Linked DNA regions of Homo sapiens: region 2 is reported to be linked to region 1. Evidence: microRNA targets listed by miRTarBase, many of them from high-throughput screens and not tested one by one. Region 1 holds a microRNA gene; the other region holds the end of a gene's coding sequence.
The links. Region 1 holds the annotated microRNA hsa-miR-6513-5p (UUUGGGAUUGACGCCACAUGUCU, at 1,751-1,773, shown strand). A microRNA usually pairs through its seed, bases 2 to 8, with sites in the 3' UTR of a target mRNA and lowers its output. Matches are read on the target gene's strand: a 7mer-m8 pairs with bases 2 to 8, a 7mer-A1 pairs with bases 2 to 7 and ends in A, and an 8mer does both.

Region 1 (7,118 bases):
AGTCCTGGAAGGGCAGATGGAAGGTGGGTGGGAGGGACAGCACTTGGAGCAGATGAGGCCACCGCCTCCTGCCCCTTTTCTCTTCTAGTTTCCCTTAAATCCCTTTCTCATCTTCTCTGTTGAGATCTCTCCCTCTGTTTCTGTCTTTGTTACCCTCCACTTTTTGCCTCAGCAACTGGCCCCCAGCCACTTGCTGCCCCCTTTGTTCAAGGAGATCCATGAGGCATGTCCCAGAACGTACACACCACAGGAGAATGGGGCTGGGCCAAGTAATGACTCCTGAGGGGTTACCTCAGGGCACCAGCTCTGTTTCCCAACAAGCGGCCAACAAGCTGCTGCCACCTCCCAGACCTGTCGACTTCCTTAGGAACTCCTTTGGGAACCTGAACCACTTTCCTCATCCTTTAAAGTGAAATCTGACTTTTGCAAAAGACATTTGGAGCCAAGTTTGGTAAACATCATGGCAGGGACATGCTTGTGTTTGGTCAGAAATGAGGTGAGGCCGGCCGCGGTGGCTCACGCCTGTAATCCCAGCACTCTGGGAGGCTGAGGCGAGCAGATCACCTGAGGTCAGGAATTCGAGACCAGCCTGGCCAACATGGCAAAACCCCATCTCCACTAAAAATACAAAAACTTAGCCGGGTGTGGTGGCGTGCACCTGTAATCCCAGCTACTCAGGAGGCTGAGGCAGGAGAATCGCTTGCAATCCCAGGAGGTGGAGGTTGCAGTGAGCCAGGATCGCACTACTGCACTTCAGCCTGAGCAACAGAGCAAGACTCTGTCTCAAAAAAAAAACCAAAAAAAAAACAAAAAACAAAACAAAACAAAAAAAGAGGCCGGGTACGGTGGCTCATGCCTGTAATCTCAACACTTTGGGAGGCTGAGATGGGCGGATCACGAGTTTGAGACCAGCCTGGCCAACATGGTGAAACCCTGTCTCTACCAAAAATACAAAAAATGAGCCGGGCGTGGTGGCATGCGTCTGTAATCCCAGCTACTCAGGAGGCTAAGGCAGGAGAATTGCTTGAACCCGGGAGGTGGAGGTTGCGGTGAGCCGAGATCACGCCTTTGCACTCCAGCTTGGGCAACAAGACCGAAACTCCATCTCAAAAAAAAAAAAAAAAAAAAAAAGGAAATGAGGTGAAGTTAGAGTGCAGTGAGTCTTCCTGGGTGGCTCAAGCGTGGATTTTAAAAGTAGTTCCCAAAGAGGCATTCAGGCATTCAGGCATTCAGGGAATGTTTGCAGCCCTGCAGCATCTCTGAACCCCAGAGGGGTGTCAGCCAGCTCTCACCTGGACATGTGCGCTGGTGCGGATCTGCGCATGGGTCCTGCACAGTCACGCACACCCTTTGCACACCTGCCTCTGTGAGGCTGATGCAGATCCCTGTCTTCACCTCTATCCCTGCTGCTGCACAAACTGCGCTCTGCCGCCCTCCTTTTCTCCTACCCTCTGTCCCCATCCCCTGTTCTGCCCTGGCTGGCTGCCCCAGTGGATGCCCATACCTGCTCCTGCCTGGCTTCCCCACTACATCGTGACCCCCCAGTGAACCCCCAGTGGCGTGGGCTGGGCACACAGGAGCCCTCCACAGATGCACGTGAGGAACGTTTCCCACCTAAGCCCCCTCGTGACAGGCCGGCTCTGGGTCACTCTGAGGGTGTCTAGAAGACCCCAGCTTGGGAGAAGAGTTCCTGTTATAACACTTGTCTTTTGGCTGGAGATCCCTGAGACTTTGAGATTGTCAGGGAGGCTTTGGGATTGACGCCACATGTCTCAGGTCCCCAGCTGAGTCAAGTGTCATCTGTCCCTAGGCCCAGGCCATGGCTATGATGGGGAGGAGAGAGCAGTGAGTGATAGCTTCGGGCCTGGAGAGTGGGATGACCGGAAAGTGCGACACACTTTTATCCGAAAGGTAAGATACGCGCTGGGAGGTGGGTGTACCTGGGGCCCCTCAGGCTGTGGGAATGGGAAGTGGGTAGGCCACAGTAGCCCCAGGGCATCAATTCCATGAAATACACTGGCTGCCTGTCTTCTCTAGCCTTGTCTGCTTCTCAGAGGGGCACCTGGCTTCTCTAACCCCAGGGTTCCCTCTCTTTTTGCACCTCTCTTCTTGACCATGTTTTGGGAGGACACATTCAGTCTGGGAGAATCTCCTAGGTGGGTTCTGCCACAGCGCCCGCCTTCCCCAGACATCTTTCTCCCTTTAGACTATAGGCAGCTTGGAGCCAGAAATGATCCTACTCGCTTGTAACCCACCCTCTCCATCTCACAGCTGCATAGAGCGTGCAGACTGAGCTGCTGGGAGTGCAGAGGCCATACTGGTAGAGTATGGTGGCCAGGCAGGGCAAGTCAGTAGTCACCGAGGCTGGTGTTGGACAGGAGGGGAGATGGCAGGGAGCATGGGAGCGGGGCTGAGGAAGAAGTGCACATTGCCTCTGAGCCAGGCATCTCACTGGGGTCGCCTCTGGGCCAGGCTGCAGCTAGGGAGGGTTCTTGAGTGGGAGGAAAGTACTGGGGGCTGGCAGCTTCCTGGGGCAGGCCAGGGGTGCCGGATGGTGACCCATGCCCGGCCGTCTGTGTCCAGGTTTACTCCATCATCTCCGTGCAGCTGCTCATCACTGTGGCCATCATTGCTATCTTCACCTTTGTGTAAGTCTCTAGGCTTTGCCACCCACTCCTACTGCCCTGGGGGTTCAGGGTCACCTGCTGGGGGTGTGGGTGGCGGTGGGCCCTGCTCTCAGGGTGACCATGGGCAATTAGAGAAGGTGAAGCCAGGGCTGCCTGGCTGGCCTGGGTGGGGCAGACAAGCCTCAGGGTGACTACTCCTGTCCTCCTGTGCCCCACAGGGAACCTGTCAGCGCCTTTGTGAGGAGAAATGTGGCTGTCTACTACGTGTCCTAGTGAGTGTGTGCTCCTCTGTGGTTGGGCAGGGAGGCAGGGGTGGCAGCTTCTGTTTCTAGGTGACCAGCTTTGCTCAGGGCAGGATCAAAATGCTTTTTGAGAGGGCCCCCAAGTTGGTGCCAGTTTCCCGTGCCAGAGGGTGTGGGTGTGCGTGCCCAGATGAGTAGCAGACCCCTAGAACTCGAGAGCAAGAGTGGGACCTGCTGGTGGTGGCGTGCACGCTGCGCTGCAGCCCCCATGTCCTCTCAGCCCGTCAGCTGCAGCCTCCCCAGACCTCCTTCCTGGCCGGAGCCTGGTGCTTCAGAGCATCTCAGTGACCCTGGCTGGGGGTAATCTCGTTCTTGCTTCCTGTTGAGTTGCTTCCCCTCAGACTTCCAAACGGCTATTTGGGCCCCAAATCACTGGCCTGGTGTGTGCTGCCAAGCGGGGCAGATTTGGGCCTGAACTGCTTCCCCATCTCTTTGTCCCTAGTGCTGTCTTCGTTGTCACCTACCTGATCCTTGCCTGCTGCCAGGGACCCAGGTGAGTCCCAGAGACTTAACACAGTGAGAGGGGTGACAGGGATTGGGATGGGGGCCGAGTATTTTGGAAAGAAGGATTCCTTTATAGCAGCTGAATGGAAACTTACAAGAAATGAGGAGGAGGATGACGATGACAGCTACTGTTCAGGTGTATACAAAGGACCATGTGTGTTTAGGAGCTAACTAGCTGTCACTCTTATAGTAACCCTGCAAGACAGGTAGCATTTTAGCCAGTTAACAAATAGGAAGAACCCGAGGCTCAAAGAGGCTGAGTAACTTTCTCCCCATCACACAGGCAGTCAGTTTAAGAGTTGCAAACCAATCCAGGTGTTTCTGGCGCCACAACACAGGTCTGTCTCATTGGCCCATGTTGTCCCTGCGTACCACACCTGAACAGGTGCCAAAGGCCATGCCAACCTCCCTCCTTGGAGTCAAGGCTTAATCCTCCAGGCACAGGAGCCAAGCGCTTCCTTCTGCTGTAGGAGCCTCTGACGCCTGAGGGGCCCCAAGTCATTTAATCAAGGCTTCTCTTTCCCTTCAGACGCCGTTTCCCATGGAACATCATTCTGCTGACCCTTTTTGTAAGTCTAGAAGGGTGGCAGGAGGGTGTGGAGATGCTGTGAGGGAGACTGCTCCCAGGGAAGGGATGGGGACCCATTTCAGAAGGATGTCCTGGCTGTCTCCTCCACCTTATCTGGGCCGCCTGTTCTGATCTCCTCTGTGGCTGCCTCTTTCCAACTTGGTGGCGTTCCCCAGCTCTGGCAGAGGCCACCATGGCCACTCCCCCAGCACCCTGCCTTCCTTCCTTTTTAAGTGTTTCATTCTTGTCTCTCTCCTTCCCTTAGACTTTTGCCATGGGCTTCATGACGGGCACCATTTCCAGGTACATTCAGGGATAAAGCACCACTCTTGGGAAATGTGTATTGTGGGGAGTGGGGTGTTCCTGGGCCGGCAGCCAGCTGCGTGGGTGGATTCTGGGCAGGTCCCCTCTGGAAGTGGTGATTTTGAAGTCATTCATACGTGGCTTAATGCCTCTTGTCTGTAACTCCTGCTTCTCCCCAGTATGTACCAAACCAAAGCCGTCATCATTGCAATGATCATCACTGCGGTGGTATCCATTTCAGTCACCATCTTCTGCTTTCAGACCAAGGTGAGGGCATGGAGGGCCCTTCCCTGGCCCCCCGACTCCCCTTTCTTATCAGGCCCGGACCCCGGCACACTAGGGATGTTCCCTAGAGACCTGATCCCCTTCTCCTCATCCGCACCTACAAAACTGTGTCCTGTTTCTGTCCTTAGAATGTTGTGGACATTCCCATACCCCCTAGGAGGCAGCACTGGGACTCCCTGGCAGGGCCAGTCTGACTGGGCTGGTTGTCACAGCCATCTGACAGGTGCCTCTTTCTTGCTTCCTGGCAGGTGGACTTCACCTCGTGCACAGGCCTCTTCTGTGTCCTGGGAATTGTGCTCCTGGTGACTGGGATTGTCACTAGCATTGTGCTCTACTTCCAATACGTGAGTGTCCCAGGAGAGCTGGGGTCAGGGAACCCAGTGCTCAGGGCAGACTTCCTATATAGCATGGTCTCGCAGGCCCCAAAGGTCCCCGGGGCAGGCTCTGACCTCCAGAACCTCTCGACTGGCTAGCAAAGGCACCAACGTGGAGGCAGCATCCTTCTGGGTGAGGGTAGACTCTCTGTGTGGAGATGGGCGGCCTTGGAGCCAGAGCACCTGAAGCCCTGGACTGCATCACTGCACTCCTAGGGGAAGGGGTGGGTTCAATCTGGCTGGCAGCTGAGAATCAGGTTCTCGGAGGCAGACTGGGAGAGGAACCCAGAGGACTGAGATGATGGGCCTAGGTGGAAGGGACCTTGCGGGGGTCTCTGGATCCAATTATTTCCTTTATTCTGTTCAGCTGGGGGAGAACAGTGCCGAAGGGGAAGGATGGGGACACGAGGGCTGCCTGCCCATGGGCCAGCTCTGTCCTTCTGTGGACGGCCACCTGTGGGCATGTCATGTGGGCTGTCCTGTGGGTGCTCCCGGATTTTGATACTCACCAGAGGGGTTGGGGGGCCTCCCTTCTTCCTTAGTCTACCCCTCCCAGGCTGGGCTGTAGGAACTGGTCTATTGAATGCTGGGTCTGCCCCTTTCAGAGCTGTAACTCAACTGCTTTTTTTCTAGAAGTATAGTAGACACTTGTGTACCTTGACTGGCTTTGGAGATTGGTTTTATACAGCCATTGCAGGATGGCCTCTGCTTTCTCTGCTGGATATATCACCAGTCTTAATTTCCTCCAAGATCTGGAAAGGCAGTAGCCTTTCATGGAGAGCTAGCTTCCCAGCTCTACCCACTCTCATGCCACTATCCCGGGGGAAGCTGGGGCCTGTGGGCCTGTGGTTTGCTGAGGTTTCTAATGCCATTCTCTGTCCCCTTCTTCTCCAGGTTTACTGGCTCCACATGCTCTATGCTGCTCTGGGGGCCATTTGTTTCACCCTGGTAAGTCCCAGCCCCACTCTAGGAAGGGGAGCTGAGGGGATGAGGGGAGGAATCTAGGGAAGGGGGCATGAATTTAGACTGCCTGGGAGGCAGGGAATGGGGCCATAGCAGGCCATTCCTCTCACTACTGTCCAGAGATTCCATTGATTTTTGTGGGCACTCTTGCCATCTCTTGTTCAAGCTGCCTGCTATTAGAACACTAGTCAGCCATATTGAGAACGGTGTGTCTGCCTCCTTTCCTAGACTGTGAGCAGCTACAGTATAGAGCCCATATGTTATGCTGTGCGTTAATGTGGCCCTAAGCACTGTGTGGCGCATAGGCCCCCAAGACAAATCTGCTGACCAAAAATGAGCTCTGGACACTGATGCCTGAGTTCTCACTTCTGGCTTCCCTATCCTTGCAGTTCCTGGCTTACGACACACAGCTGGTCCTGGGGAACCGGAAGCACACCATCAGCCCCGAGGACTACATCACTGGCGCCCTGCAGATTTACACAGACATCATCTACATCTTCACCTTTGTGCTGCAGCTGATGGGGGATCGCAATTAAGGAGCAAGCCCCCATTTTCACCCGATCCTGGGCTCTCCCTTCCAAGCTAGAGGGCTGGGCCCTATGACTGTGGTCTGGGCTTTAGGCCCCTTTCCTTCCCCTTGAGTAACATGCCCAGTTTCCTTTCTGTCCTGGAGACAGGTGGCCTCTCTGGCTATGGATGTGTGGGTACTTGGTGGGGACGGAGGAGCTAGGGACTAACTGTTGCTCTTGGTGGGCTTGGCAGGGACTAGGCTGAAGATGTGTCTTCTCCCCGCCACCTACTGTATGACACCACATTCTTCCTAACAGCTGGGGTTGTGAGGAATATGAAAAGAGCCTATTCGATAGCTAGAAGGGAATATGAAAGGTAGAAGTGACTTCAAGGTCACGAGGTTCCCCTCCCACCTCTGTCACAGGCTTCTTGACTACGTAGTTGGAGCTATTTCTTCCCCCAGCAAAGCCAGAGAGCTTTGTCCCCGGCCTCCTGGACACATAGGCCATTATCCTGTATTCCTTTGGCTTGGCATCTTTTAGCTCAGGAAGGTAGAAGAGATCTGTGCCCATGGGTCTCCTTGCTTCAATCCCTTCTTGTTTCAGTGACATATGTATTGTTTATCTGGGTTAGGGATGGGGGACAGATAACAGAACGAGCAAAGTAACCTATACAGGCCAGC
Region 2 (7,118 bases), not on the chromosome of region 1:
TACTGCCTGAGCTCTGCCTCCTGTCAGATCAGTAAGGCATTAGATTCCCACAGAAGCATGAAGCGTATTGTGAACTGTGTATACGAGGGATCTAGGTTGTGCACTCCTCATGCGGATCTAACACCTGATGACCTGAGGTGGAACAATTTCACTTTGAAACTACCCCTGTCCGTGGAAAACTTGTCCTCCACAAAACCAGTCCCTGGTGCCCAAAAGGTTGGGGACCGCTGACCTAAATTATTAAAATTTAGTGAGATGCATCCTTACTACTTAAAATGTCAGCTGCATTTCTAGTCAGTGCCTTATCTCCTTCTGTCAAAGTTCGAGTCACTGGATTTTATATTGTTTCATTCAAAGTGTGTTGGAATACCCTTTTTATGGTTGGAATACAGATTGAGAGAAGTACATTTTTATATCATCTTTGTTATAAGAGTGAATGTGAATATAAACCAAGAGTGAATGGAGTGAATCTAAACCAAGATTCTTCTAGAGACAACAGTGTTGCTATAAATTAATTAACTAGGACTCTTCTTTTCCTGAAGGTGTACAAGGGAGAAGAAGCCACATTCCAAATCTCAGGCCTCCAGACCAACACAGACTACAGGTTCCGCGTATGTGCGTGTCGTCGCTGTTTAGACACCTCTCAGGAGCTAAGCGGAGCCTTCAGCCCCTCTGCGGCTTTTGTATTACAACGAAGTGAGGTCATGCTTACAGGGGACATGGGGAGCTTAGATGATCCCAAAATGAAGAGCATGATGCCTACTGATGAACAGTTTGCAGCCATCATTGTGCTTGGCTTTGCAACTTTGTCCATTTTATTTGCCTTTATATTACAGTACTTCTTAATGAAGTAAACCCAACAAAACTAGAGGTATGAATTAATGCTACACATTTTAATACACACATTTATTCAGATACTCCCCTTTTTAAAGCCCTTTTGTTTTTTGATTTATATACTCTGTTTTACAGATTTAGCTAGAAAAAAAATGTCAGTGTTTTGGTGCACCTTTTTGAAATGCAAAACTAGGAAAAGGTTAAACTGGATTTTTTTTTTTAAAAAAAAGAAAAAAAAAGAAGAAAAGTATACCAGATACCAAAAGCTAGCTTTCTTATGTTTTCCTTTAAATTTTCAGATTTACCTTCATTCTGTTTTCACTGATGTCTTTTGCAAGCCTTTGATTTTTTTTTTTTTGTTACAGTTTAGTAATTTATATTCACCAGTCACTTCATATGTCTTGAACATCTGTATCTGTAAACATGAATCACCGTGTGTGTACTTACAGGGCTAGGATTTCAGTGTTGTCAGAGTATTACCACACAGCAACAGCAACATACAGAAGATATGTTCACTCAGATAAGACTGCCCTAAACAACCATTTTGTCACTCAGTTATTTAACTGTGTTTAGCTCATTTAAATCAAAATGTGTACTTTAATCTAAAATGTTTTAATAATCTGTATTTCTTATAATTTTAACACTATGAGCTGCCTGTATAAGAAATCAAGTAACCAGAATGCACCTATAAATTATGGAGCATTGTAGATTTTACCACATCAATTCATAGCAGTAACTTTAAGAGGGCATTGTGCAATAGTTAGTTGTTTTCTTGTTCAGCTATTTTAAAGGCTGCTTTAACTTGTTTGTTTGTCTTTGTATATAACTACTTCTAATCTAATCACTAGAGTTATTATATTCTGTTATGTTTGACCAGAATTATATGACAAGAACTGGTGACAGTTTAGTGCCTCTGCCCATTGTCCATGATTTACACTAATTGTGAGCAGTCTTCTTATGTGTCAGCTCATTATTTTTGAAACATTTGCCTTTAGGCTGTTCTTTGAGGTATCAATGAAGTGATTGAATTTCAATACCTTAATTCAGTGCACATAATACTAATGTAACAGCAGATGAAAATTGATAAAACCCAAAAGAGAGTCATCTAAATTTGTAGTTCCTATTTCTGTGGGTTTGCCTGGCCATGGTTGGAGAGGGAATGGTGTTTGATGGTAAACACAGGGTGTTTGGGGATCAAGGAGCCTAGATTCTCTCCCTGGATCTGTCACTAACTTGCTGCGTGACCTGAACACGTCACTTTACCTCTCTGTGCCTCAGTTTTCCCATGCATGAAAAATAAAATAAAATAAAACGGGGATTCTAATGTTTGTAAGTGCTTTGAGATCTTTGACCAACAGGTGCTATTGGAGTGCAAAGTGTTACTCTTACGTGTTTATTTTGAGTCATGAGATAATCAATTTTAACCCAAAGTCATTGGATTATTTATATGAAGTCCATAATGTTCGAGTACCTCAGGGACATTTAAGAGTTGGAGGTGCAAATATATTCCAAAAGGGTGCAACAGACACAGTGTATCCCCCTGCTTCTGTTTTTGTATATTTTTGCTACTTGGTTTTTCTTGATCATAGCTATTTTGTGCTTGATCTTTATTGTCTAAGATGCAGTATCCTGTACTAGCTTATAATATTCCCATACCAAAGTCATGGGGAAACAAACATTATTTTGTTTTTGGTTTATTTATACTATATTCTGCATACAGTACTTTAAATGCCAATTACAGTGCAATCTTTATTTATTGTAAAATTTTTTAAGTGTACTTATGTACTAATTTTCCCTTGTAGCATGTTATATTTTTGTGTTTTATACTTTTGTAATTTTAGGTCAGTCTTGTTCCTTGGCAACATCTGTAGTATTATTAATCTTCTGACATTTTCTTATGTTTTTAAAAAGATAAGAGCATCTAGTGCATTAAATGCCAAAAAAAAAATACATTATCAGTGATTGAAACGTTTACATGTACCCAAAAACCATAATCATCTCTTGGAAGAAAATGCTGAGATCAATGAATTATTCTGTGTGCCTATATTGACGTAGTGAGTACTAGAGAGTTCTGTATTTTATTATTGACTATAATAATTAGTTTAATTAGCTTTGCAAACTGATGGCATCAAGGTAAATATATTTTTGCCAAAGTTCTGGCCTTCCAAAACTCACCCCCTTATTTAAATGTGTGCTATGACCCACTATGACCACAGCATCTGCATTTTCTAAAAAATTCCATGCAGGTGTTTTGGGGAGAGGTATTTTTTAAGCAATGAAAATTCAACTGAGTACAAAGCCCCCTCTTGGGGGGTTGGGGAAGTCTCTTTTTTGAAACACTTCAGAACTGCTGCTATAAAGAAATTCTCTAATTGGTTGAATTTTTTTTTTAAGTAAATAGTACTTTAGGCCAAAATTTATATGAATATTTGATCTTCTTGAGATTTTCATACTATCATTTAACCACCAGGAAGCTGAAGTGTGTGAAGTACAAAGCTGACAGCACTTTATTTTATTGCTCTCCATTATTTGGTATTCATTATATTCCTTCAGTCAGAAAATTATTACTCTCTATGGCACTGTTTTTTATCACAAATATGTATATGTGATATTGATATATAACTATATATATTGCCATCACACACGAACAATAAAATAAAGTGTTCTATTAACCTGATCTCTTTGCCCTTTTGCTATGTGAGGAGTGAATGAGTGGCCTTCTGATGCTCTGACTCTTCTCTGTATGTCAAACTCATCCCTGGCACAAGAAATTCCAGTCATGTGAAGCAAACTGCCCTTTGTCCTCAAAGAAATTGTTGAAAAAGAAAACTTTTTAAAGAGATTTTTTGCATATTCTCTGCCTTGTTCTTATCAACTTGAAATGTTGGCATTTTCTAACCTTGTTTTGTTGGCTACAATAATTCAGTATTCATGTCAAAATTGAGAAGTGCCCTAATTGAATGTGTTTGAATGTTATCCTTGCACAATTCTTTAAATTGAAAGATAAAATGTTTTACCTCACTGTTGGACATACATTCCAAGCTTTTCAACTCTAGGAGAAAAAGAAAATCATGTTTTCCTGTATTGTAAATTTTAGACTATTTCATATACATTGTATTAAAACTGCCATATCAATTTTAATGTATAGATTTTGCAAATATTATGCTATATGTAATACCTAACTGTATCTGTAGTGTATATGTAATATATTTATGCCCAATAAATGTTTTAATTCTTTCTGACTTAAATAGGGTTTTTCTGCCATGACTAGGATTGCTTTTGTTGTTGTTGTTGTTGTTTCTTTCTTTTTTTTTTTTTTTGAGACGGAGTCTTGCTCTGTCGCCAGGCTGGAGTGCAGTGGCGCGATCTCAGCTCACTGCAACCTCCAGCTCCCAGGTTCAAGTGATTCCCCTGCCTCAGCCTCCCAAGTAGCTGGGGATTACAGGCACTCGCCACCATGCCCGGATAATTTTTTTTTTTTTTTTGAGTTGGAGTCTTGCTCTGTCGCCCAGGCTGGAGTGCAGTGACCCAATCTCGGCTCACTGCAAGCTCCACCTCCCGGGTTCATGCCATTCTCCTGCCTCAGCCTCCCAAGTAGCTGGGACTACAGGTGCCCGCCACCACGCCCGGCTAATTTTTTTAATTTTAGTAGAGTCGGGGTTTCACCATGTTGGCCAAGATGGTCTCGATCTGACCTCGTGATCTGCCCGCCTCGGCCTCCCAAAGTGCTGGGATTACAGGTGTGAGCCCCCGCACCCAGCCTTATTCTTCCCTTTTAAATACTTAAAGCACATTCAGATTAGTTGAAAATTCACGTGTTTTTGGAGGCCAGGCAGGTGGCCTTCTGCAGAGACAGCAGCAGCTCAGCTCTTGCTGACCAAGGCCTTGGAGGACTGTGAGCCACAATCACATATGTCCATGTTTCAAAAGAAGCTAAATATCCAGATTTCCTCCATGGGCCAACTAAAAGGTGATTGTGGACTATACAGGCTGCCAGTTTAATCCTTTATCAGAGTCTCTGTGGATAATGTACCTTGTTGCCTAATACTTTATCTGTCTACCAAAACTCAGTCCAGATCTCCCTCTGTTCACCTGGCACACTGGGTGCTTCCTCTCCCCTGACGAACTCTATAGAGTGTTCATGTCCTTTCCTGCAGGTCTCATTCAACAACAACAACAACAACAGCAATAAAACACAGTGTTCCTGCTATGGCCATGGTTTTGTGATTTTAGATTGTCTTAGTAGGAATTCCCACTATCTCTTTTATTTTTCAGGAAAATGGGTAAAAAAAACTGTCACTTTATTGAACCTCACTTATATGAAGCATGGTAATTATTCTGGGTAAAGATGACAAATTGAGCACATCAAATTTTGAATGCTCCTGACACCACTAAAAGTAAAGGATTTTTTATTTTTTTAAGTCACAACTCAACCCTCAAGACTGGGAAGAAAGAGGAGTTATTGGCACCAGAATTTTGGAAATATGATCAACAAAACTTAATTCTAATTTGGCAGAGGAGAAAATGAGCATCAGTGTTTTTATTCTCAATGCAGGATACCCTAAAGGCTCAAAAATTGACAGCAACATATCCCTTTGAAGTGATAGTGAAGAGAGAGAGGAGGCTAAAATAGTATTGGTTGAAAGCTGTTTAAAATGCAGTTAGATCAATAAAATCCCTCCCCCTTTTTTTTTTCAGCTGGACAAAAATGTCCCTCCTCCCCACCCACCTCCATCACTCTTGCAGAAGCCTAGAGGTGTATCCTCAGGAGAAGGTTCAAATAGAAAGTCCCTGGACTGGGAGACACGATCCACAGTTGAGAATGAAGGCACCATATCAAAAGCAAATTAGTGAACATAGGCTTATGGAAGAACATTACAAAGAGCCTCATGGGCTGGGAACAACAAAAAAGAAATCTAAAAATCTAAAAATCTTCAATGAAATGGTTCAGCCAGAGCACTCTTGGGTAGTACTTTTCAACCTGTACATTAATATCACCTAGAGAGCTTTTCAAAATTCTCGTACCCTACACCAATAAAATGAGTATTGCAGAGGCATCAGTATTTTTTAACACTCCCCAGGCGCTTTCACTGTGTATATGAAATTGAGAACCATTGCTGAAAAGTGAAACTCTCAGTCAGCAATCCCCTATCAGCTTTTTAGTCTTTCATCTTAACCAAGGATAACCTGATATCTGATGAAAGTGTCTAACGTGGATGAAAAGCCCAAAACCAACAACTTGGAAGAATCAGAGACTACATGGAGAAGAAGCTTCAAAAACCTGTCATATCTCCAGAGAGATGAGAAAAGAAAAGGCATCTGTAGAATAAAGATAGACTACTATAGAAAAGGAACTGTTAACAAGAAAATGTTCTTGGAAATTAAACATTCGGTAGCATGGTTGGAAGCTGAAATTTAGCAAATAACCTGAAAATTTGAGGAAAAAAGAAAGGAAAAGATTAGGATCAGACCAGGACCATTCAATATCCAAGTAATAGGAACTCCAGAAAGAACAGAAAGTGGAAGAGAGGAAATCGTTAAACACATGAGTTTCTAGAATAATAGGGTATGGGAGCACACAACACAATGGATGAAAATAGGACTTGTACTAAGGCTCGCCATCTTGAAGTTTCAACACTAGAGAACCTCCCCAACATGAAAAGCTGGTCACATAGAAGGATTGGGAATCAAGCGTGGCGTTAGACATAAGCAGTTGCTTCAAGATTTTGAAAGAAATATAATAGATTTCTCGCCTGCCTACTCTCAGTCAAGTGTAAGCTACCACGAAGACATTTTTTAAACTGGAAACTCCCACAAGTTTGTCTCTCATGCACCTTTTCTCAGGAAGCTACTGGAGGATAAGCTTTCCCATATAAGTGAATGAATCAAAGAAACATCTATGAGATTCTGTTTCCAGTGCTTTTTATTTAGGTCAGAAGTTGGCTCTCTGACCCTATGCCACGAGAGGATTTATGCAACTATCACGTTCTTACCCTTTCCCCATCCCCAATTGACCTGAGTGCACACATACATTTCCCTAAACAGGAGGAGTGTAAAAATGAGCCTTTTAAACAAATCTCTCAGGGTATTTTGCCTTGAGCCAATTAAAATCAATAGTTAAATTTGTCTACAGATACCCTTTATTCAGGGTGACAACTGAAAAATAATTCCCACCTCCACTGCTAGACTAGTACCTCAAAAGCTGGGGGAAGGGAGTGTGTGCATGGGGCAGCAAGCCTCATTTTAACTTTGCAGCATCTAGCACATTTTCTGGCCCATATTAG

Region 2: miRTarBase lists FNDC3B as a target of hsa-miR-6513-5p. Seed matches in the 3' UTR shown: 7mer-A1 at 4,553-4,559.

Annotation. Positions count from the first base shown.
Region 1 is chr2:218,274,819-218,281,936 of GRCh38, reverse strand. MIR6513 (microRNA 6513) reads left to right here and starts at 1,749; the gene lies at 1,749-1,812. All of the region lies in intron 2 of PNKD (PNKD metallo-beta-lactamase domain containing), which reads right to left. TMBIM1 (transmembrane BAX inhibitor motif containing 1) reads left to right here. Exons shown (of 12, transcript NM_022152.6): 3 at 1,811-1,911; 4 at 2,584-2,648; 5 at 2,846-2,899; 6 at 3,372-3,422; 7 at 3,963-4,002; 8 at 4,267-4,304; 9 at 4,484-4,571; 10 at 4,838-4,933; 11 at 5,858-5,911; 12 at 6,316-7,118. The coding sequence ends at 6,462.
Region 2 is chr3:172,396,622-172,403,739 of GRCh38, forward strand. FNDC3B (fibronectin type III domain containing 3B) reads left to right here. Exons shown (of 26, transcript NM_022763.4): 26 at 543-5,048. The coding sequence ends at 854. Among named protein-coding and RNA genes, the nearest start is that of GHSR, 48 kb to the right of the region's middle.